2 linked regions of the Homo sapiens genome follow. The protein of the gene in region 2 interacts with the protein of the main gene of each other region in a pairwise test. Each region holds a gene or a part of one and is shown on either strand. Other genes may lie near its edges. The genes, in order: TRIM9 and CHFR.

The links.
Region 1: the proteins of CHFR (region 2) and TRIM9 interact in a two-hybrid assay, tested with the Homo sapiens proteins (one large-scale study listed by BioGRID and IntAct).

Annotation. Positions count from the first base shown.
Region 1 is NC_000014.9:50,983,362-50,987,180, forward strand, and holds part of TRIM9 (E3 ubiquitin-protein ligase TRIM9), read right to left. Parts: intron 2,806-3,819; exon of another isoform or gene 2,784-2,805; coding exon 2,595-2,783; coding exon of another isoform or gene 2,563-2,594; exon of another isoform or gene 61-2,562; coding exon 19-60; exon of another isoform or gene 1-18. UniProt on the Homo sapiens protein: E3 ubiquitin-protein ligase which ubiquitinates itself in cooperation with an E2 enzyme UBE2D2/UBC4 and serves as a targeting signal for proteasomal degradation.
Region 2 is NC_000012.12:132,856,589-132,860,407, forward strand, and holds part of CHFR (E3 ubiquitin-protein ligase CHFR), read right to left. Parts: intron 2,640-3,819; coding exon 2,480-2,639; intron 972-2,479; coding exon 817-971; intron 43-816; coding exon 1-42. UniProt on the Homo sapiens protein: E3 ubiquitin-protein ligase that functions in the antephase checkpoint by actively delaying passage into mitosis in response to microtubule poisons.

The sequences.
Region 1 (3,819 bases), on a different chromosome or scaffold from region 2:
TACAATAGGTATACTTGCCTAATTGAGAGTAAGGTGCAGATTGTGTCTCAAAATTGCATCCTATAAAGAGATACTACACATCAACGCTATGAAACAACAACCAGGTTGATAAAAATTACTTGTATACGCTTAAAAAGCACCAGTTGAATATAGATACCAGAGGCCTGATCCATGAAAAAACAAAGCCCTTTTTATATTATTTAGTTTGTTGGGTAAAAAACTGCCCCTCTGCTCTTTCAAAATGAAAAGCACATCTTTTTACCATTTAATAAATCCTCCTCCAATTGATCCTAAACTCTGTAGCTGAATTTTTCATCTTCCAAGTTCAATCTTTTCCTCTAAAGTTTCCACAGTAAGAAGGCTAGCTGTTTTAAAAATGGGGAAAATGTACTTAATTGCAACGGAGAAATCACTGGATTTTGATAAAACTCTGCTCTCACTATTCTATGCACTTCTAACTCTGGTTATGCCAAAAGGTCTTCATTGTGACTTGAGCCCAAATTAAATATAACTAAATGTGTAATGTAATCCATTTGTGAATACATACATCTTATTAATAATTATTAATAATGACATGACGAATGTGTTAAAACTGCCTCCTTTCCTTCTTAGGAGACAAGATCCTTCTCACCTGAGGGAGGGGAGGAGGGATGGTAGGAGTGGGTGTGGTCTCAGAGATACATTGGAATCCCCTGTGGAACTTTTTCAACCATCTCCCTTCCTTAAGATTTGGATACCTGTACCCCATGAGAAATTACATTGTGTGGAGGAAGACTGCCTAGTCTTAAAATGTTCAAAAGTGTGTGACCTACAATTTCCAGTGGTTTCAAGGACTGATCTAGAAAATGTGGTTTTGATGAACACTGGGGGATAAAGAAAGGATCATTTTATTTTCTTTTCTATTTAGTAAGGCCTTTATATGCTAATTCCTAAAACATTTGCAGGATAATGTGCTGACTTAAAAGAATTTTACAAGAATTAAAAAAGCAACTTACTATAAAAAAGGACTAATGGCTGAGTTAAAAACAAAATATAAAAATTATGATCTTACTTTTGGTTAGTTTGCTTTTCTCTGGGATGAATTCACATGCAAAAGAATCGTTTCCTCCCATCTCATGGCTGATTTTTATGTTTTGTTTCTATCAATTATCACTTCAATTCCTATTCATGTGTTAGAGCATAGTGACTATGGAATACCTGGAGTTTTAAAACCGACTCTCATATTCAGCTTGGAAATAAGTTTGTAGAATCTGAATAGGGCTTTAAAAACTTTTAAATGAATCATGCCTTGTGCAACTCTTTTTCAAAACAAATATTCTGAAATCTTTTTACACTACTTTAAATACATTATCATACATTTAAGATTCAACAATACAGCTAGAATAATGCTCTTAAATACACCCATCAAATATCCCAAAACTCACATTTCATTTTATTCTTGAGACAATGTGCATTACAAAGACTGTAACGATATTTCAGTACATTAGACACAAGGGAAAAGAGTTTCATAACAAAGCATGTTGGGAAGCCATAGTGCACAGAAAAACAATAAGAAACATAAAAGCACAAAGAAGAATGTCATTTTAAAGACAGCTTGAAGTCCCTGCATCCTTTTTGCACTGTCATGCTGTGGCCTTCTTCATTCCAGAATGTGGGATGAGCAAAAAGAATAAAATAAAAACCAAAAGAAACCTTTGGAAATATGAAATGTGCATCATGTGTATCCATGATTACAATATAGTCCTGAAGAGATCAAATAGGTCTGCATCTTATATATTTTAACATTCTATTTGCTAGGCAGTGTTCGCTACAAAGGAACACAAGTCTAGCTTTGCTGAAATCAGCCTTAGGCTCTGTCACAACCAGCTTGGCTGTGGGAAACTTCGAGGAGTCCAGACTTTTTGATTACTCAGATCTTTGGTCATTAGGCATTAGGAGTTAAGGGTTTCTAATTCGGCTAGCAGTGATCCCACCCCATTGCTAGGAAAACACTCAGCCATGAGCCCCACTGTCCTAGCAGTGAGCACAGGCTTTTGCAGAAAATGCTTTCACTTTCTGCTCTCTGGATTGCCTGCTTTATAGGATGCTTTCTGCTGTTGGTGTGTTTTTACTTTTATTGTACTTTGTCAATAAAGATCTCTTGAGTCTATGTTTAATCAGACCACTCCAGGCTGGATGCACTGATCCAGTCTCCCAGACACTGCTGGTTTCCTGGATACAGAAGGGCTGCAAACCTCCACATTACTGCCATGGCCGCCACTCAGCCAGCGCCCGTGCCGTGCTATGCCACTGCATGTGATGACAGAGCGGGTTATCCATGGTGGTACCAGCTTGTGCGAAAAGAATAACTTCACTCATCACTTTCTAATGCCGTAATACATGGACCACAGCTCCATGGTTGCTCCTTCCACCACACAAACAAGAACGCCACAAAGCTCCACCATCCCGATGCTCCTCATACGGAAAGCAGGCCACAGACAGAGACTAGCTCATCCCCCTCACCACGCACATGAATGGCAAGAACAAGACACGCGTTTCAGAGATGCCTTCAAGGCACAGAGATCAAGGGGAAAGGTCTGAGGAGCTCAGCTCACCCGGTGCATTGAGAGACTGTAAAGAGGAATGCAAGCTCAGCTGGTGGGGTGAGGATCGGAAATCAAAGTAGGATCTCCCGGGGAAGCTGGGTTGTAGATTAAGGGTGGAGGAGAAAGGACTCATTCTACGGAGCGGCAATCTTTCCGAAGGCACTGGAAAAGGGAGGGTCTGTTCTTCTGAATCTGTGTCTAAATGTAAGATCAATGCAAACTAGAGATCAGAAGTCTGCTATTATGTCCCCGTGCACGGTTCCCCAAGACCTGCCTTAACAATGCATTCATACAAAGCCTCATCTTTCCCACAGGGTGCCACACTCAGGCATTTACAAAACCAATGTGCCTGGGGGCAGGGAGGGAATTTTCGGCAGATCAGGACCCAAGACCAGAGGACACCTCGAACAACAAAGGCAATTGTTGTCACTTTCCCGATTTTTAGTGGTAGAAAATTGGAAGGTTTCCTTTTAATTAAATAAAATACTTTTAGAATTGAATGTACAAAATGTAAAGGCAAATTTTACCTATTGATGACCAAGAGGATATTATTTTACCCCCTTCAGTTGTCCTGGGAGTTACTACCTATTCAACAATGGCCTCTTAAAGGGTTTCTATCTAAGAGATGGTGATTTTTTACAAACTGTTTCCTATTCCATATTTTCCCATTTCTCTCCTAATGTGTATTTTTCTATTAGATGGATGAGCTGATTTTTTATACTAGCACACTCCAGACTCTATCTTTGAATAGGAGAGGAAATGTGGGGTGGTCTAAGGAAGACAGGGCTGGACAAGTAAGCAGGGAAAGAGCCTTACCTTTGTTTCTGAATTATGATCAGACTCTAGGGATGTCACTTGACCATCTTTGTTTCTCTAATGATAAACAGACTGTAGGCAGTGGTGAGGTGCATTGGTGGCAAAATATCTGTTTCTGTTCAGATAGTCAGGTTTGGCCTGAAGATAATTATTATATCAGACTAAAGACTTAACAATTATTTGATCTGGTTTTAGAAGGGCATGAGTTAGTTTCTCTGAATTACTAAAATTGGTCCTTTCTATTTTGTCAAACAATAGCTGGTTCTATGCACGGTGTGGTCTAGTCAGAGGTGGATCTTTCGCCAATTGAAGCCTTCTTAACATTCAGTCTAATAGCAATAATTTAGGAAATACAGATGGTAGGAAGGTAATATGCCATGTCCAAAATCACAAAGGAACTTTCTTCTCATTGAAATAA
Region 2 (3,819 bases):
TGGCATCCATACTTTGCACATCTTCTTCACTGCGACTCTTGTCTAGAATTGAAAGGACACAGCGCCATTCACCGGCAGTGAGACATGGCAGGCAGACACAGCTCACACTGCTGGGAGCTCGCGTGCGCAGTGCTGCGGAAGGAGGGGTCTGGGCGGACCGCCCTCACGTGCCCGGGTGCTGGTGGAGGGACTGCCCTCACGTGCCCAGGTGCTGGTGTGGATGCCCTCACGTGCCCGGGTGCTGGTGGAGGGACCGCCCTCACATGCCTGGGTGCTGGTGTGTGGATGCCCTCACTTGCCTGGGTGCTGGTGGAGGGACCGCCCTCACTTGTCTGGGTGCTGGTGGAGGGACCACCCTCGCTTGCCCAGGTGCTGGTGGAGGGACCACCCTCACGTGCCCGGGTGCTGGTGTGGATGCCCTCACGTGCCTGGGTGCTGGTGGAGGGACCACCCTCACGTGCCCGGGTGCTGGTGGAGGGACCACCCTCACGTGCCCGGGTGCTGGTGGAGGGACAGCCCTCACGTGCCCGGGTGCTGGTGGAGGGACAGCCCTCACGTGCCCGGGTGCTGCTGGGTGGATGCCCTCACGTGCCCAGGTGGTGGTGGAGGGACCGCCCTCACGTGCCTGGGTGCTGGTGTGGATGCCCTCACGTGCCCGGGTGCTGGTGGAGGGACCACCCTCACGTGCCCGGGTGCTGGTGGAGGGACAGCCCTCACGTGCCCGGGTGCTGCTGGGTGGATGCCCTCACGTGCCTGGGTGGTGGTGGAGGGACCGCCCTCACGTGCCCGGGTGCTGGTGTGGATGCCCTCACTTGCCTGGATGCTGGATGAGGTATGCTTCCACGAGGTTGTTGAGGATGTGGTTTTTACAGATCCGCTCCACGGGACAGCGGCAGGTAGGACACAGGGACGAGCGCTCCATCCAGCCCGAGTAGCAAGCCGCGCAGAACGTGTGCATGCAGGGCTGCAAACTGAAAGTGCAAGAGGAACAGTGTCCAGACAGTCCCACAGATGCAACCGCGACCCTCGACCAAGGTCCGCAGCAGCCCCACCACGGAAGGGCCTACAGGGGCCCAGCCATCGTTCAACCTAAAAACCCTTTAAGTCAGTCTTGGTTAATGAAAAGAAATCAGAGGCCACACGGCCTCTGTGTTTTCAGGAAAGACAGAGGCGAGTAGATTATGACTTCAGGAACACAAACAACAGAGACAGCAAGTGTTTCTGGCCCAGAAGTTGGAAGGTTGTCACTCTTGAGTTCCCGCGGAAAAGCAAGGAGGCCCTTCCTCAGCGGCTCCTACGTTCATTCTATGCGAAATACACCTTCCCAGATAAGGAGCATTTAAAATGTGCAGAGTTCCTTTCATCTGTTTGCAGAGTTCACGGGGTCACACACGACCCACACACTCAAAACTTGTGGGGTCTACAGCCTCCGGCTCTGGGTTCCAGGTTTCCTCCTTGTTGGTGCCACGAGTAGAATGAAAGTGGTAGCCATGCGGGGTGGCTCACGTCTGTAATCCCAACACTTTGGGAGGCCAAGGTGGGCAGATTACCTGAGTGCAGGAGTTCGAGACCAGCCTGGCTAATATGGTGAAACTCCCGTCTCTACTAAAAATACAAAAAAATTAGCCAGATGTGGTGACGCATGCCTGTAGTCCCAGCTACTTGGGAGGCTGAGGCAGGAGAATCACTTGAACCTGGGAGGTGGAGGTTGCAGTGAGCCAAGATCACACCACTACACTCCAGCCTGGGTGACAGAGCGAGACTCTAACTCCAAAAAACAAAAACAAAAACAAAAAACCACCCCGGGCTACATGGCGAAACCGTCTCTACAAAAAACACAAAAATCAGCAGGGTGGCTGGGAGTAGTGGCTCACGCCTATAATCCCAGCACTTTAGGAGGCAAACGTGGGCAGATCACCTGAAGTCAGGAGTTCAAGACTAGCCTGGCCAACATGGTGAAACCCTGTCTCTACTAAAAAATACAAAAAAATTAGCCGGGCATGGTGGCACACGCCTGCAGTCCCAGCTGCTCAGGAAGCTGAGGTAGGAGAATCGTCTGAACCCGGGAGGCTGAGGTTGTAGTGAGCCAAGACTGTGCCACTGCACTCCAGCCTGGTGACAGAGCGAGACTCCATCTAAAAAAAAAAAAAAAAAAAAAAAAAAAAAGGAATAAAAAATATTTAGAACATTAAAAAAAAAAAAAAAGTCAGCCAGGCATAGTGGTGTGCACCTGTAGTCCCAGCAACTCAGAAGGCTGAGGTCAGAGAACCGCTCAATCCTGGGAGGGAGAGGTTGCAGTGGGCTGAGAAAGCTCCACCCACTCCACCCACTCCACCCACTTATCTGGGTGACAGAGTAACCTCAGCAGATGCCAGGCCAAACAGGACCTGCAGGCTTGTCTCATGCCCAGCCCTGCCCCACACGGGACGAAGAACCTGCAGTGCCATGTTCCGTGAGCCAAGGGTGAACACGGTCGCACCTCACGCAGTCGTGCAGCAGGTCCTGGCAGATGATGCATGTCAGCGTCTCCTCCATCTTGTCTGGCTTCCCAGCCGCTGCTCTGACGTCCTCGTGGACGGTTTGGGCATTTCTACGCGGTTGTGCGACCAACAACTGCCCGTTCAGGTCAAGGTCCCCATCTACAGGAGAAAGGGATGTGTTCTGTCGTAACCAAGAAGGAAATACACGCAGGTTCAGGTCAAGGTCCCCGTCCACAGGAGAAAGGGATGTGTTCTAACTGTCGTAACCGAGAAGGAAATACATGCAGTCTTTTTTTTTTCGAGACAGAGTCTCGCTCTGTCGCCCAGGCTGGAGTGCAGTGGCGCGATCTCGGCTCACTGCAAGCTCCGCCTCCCGGGTTCATGCCATTCTCCTTCCTCAGCCTCCTGAGTAGCTGGGACTACAGGTGCCCACCACCACGCCCGGCTAATTTTGTGTATTTTTAGTAGAGACAGGGTTTCACCGTGTTAGCCAGGATGGTCTCAATCTCCTGACCTCGTGATCCACCCGCCTCGGCCTCCCAAAGTACTAGGGTAACAGGTGTGAGCTACCGCGCCCCACCCTCTTCTGGTGTTTTTATTTTTCTATAATGCTCAGATGTTGGTAATCAATTAATTTTTATTTTTAATTAAAGAAACTGTACACAATTTAAAAAGCCAAGTATTTAGAAGAAGCCAGGTGCAATGGCTCACAACTGTAATCCCAGCACTTTGGGAGGCTGAGGTGGGCAGATCGCTTGAGCCCAGGAGTTCAAGACCAGTCTGGGCAATATAATGAAACCCCATCTCTAAAAAAATGGGAAAAAAAATTAGCCAGCTATGGTAGCGTGCACCTGTGGTCTCAGCTACTCGGAAGGCTGAGGTGGGAGGACAGTCTGAGCCCAGGAGGTGGAGGCTGCAGTGAGCCAAGACTGCACCACGGCGCTCTGGCCTAGGTGACAAAGCAAGATCCTGTCTCTTAAAAAAATGTATACATAATATATTTAGAAGAAAACAAAGGCAGTCACCCTCCGTCTCAGCCGCTCCTCACCCAATTTCCCTCCTCGGAGGAAAACTATTTTCATGTCTTTGAGCTGTTTCTTCTGGTATTTACCTCTGTGTTTCTAAGTTATCATGGTACATTTGATTTATCAATTTTAGACATCATTCCTGACATCTATTAAGGTAGAGAAAAACTCTGTCCTGAGACACCCCTGCCAACATTACATTAACAGATTACATTAGTTCATGATACTGTATTTGTATTATTATGCTTATGCAAGTATTCACTGCTGAGCCAAGTAGTTTACTAGATTAAGTTGTGTGACTTACACAATTTTTC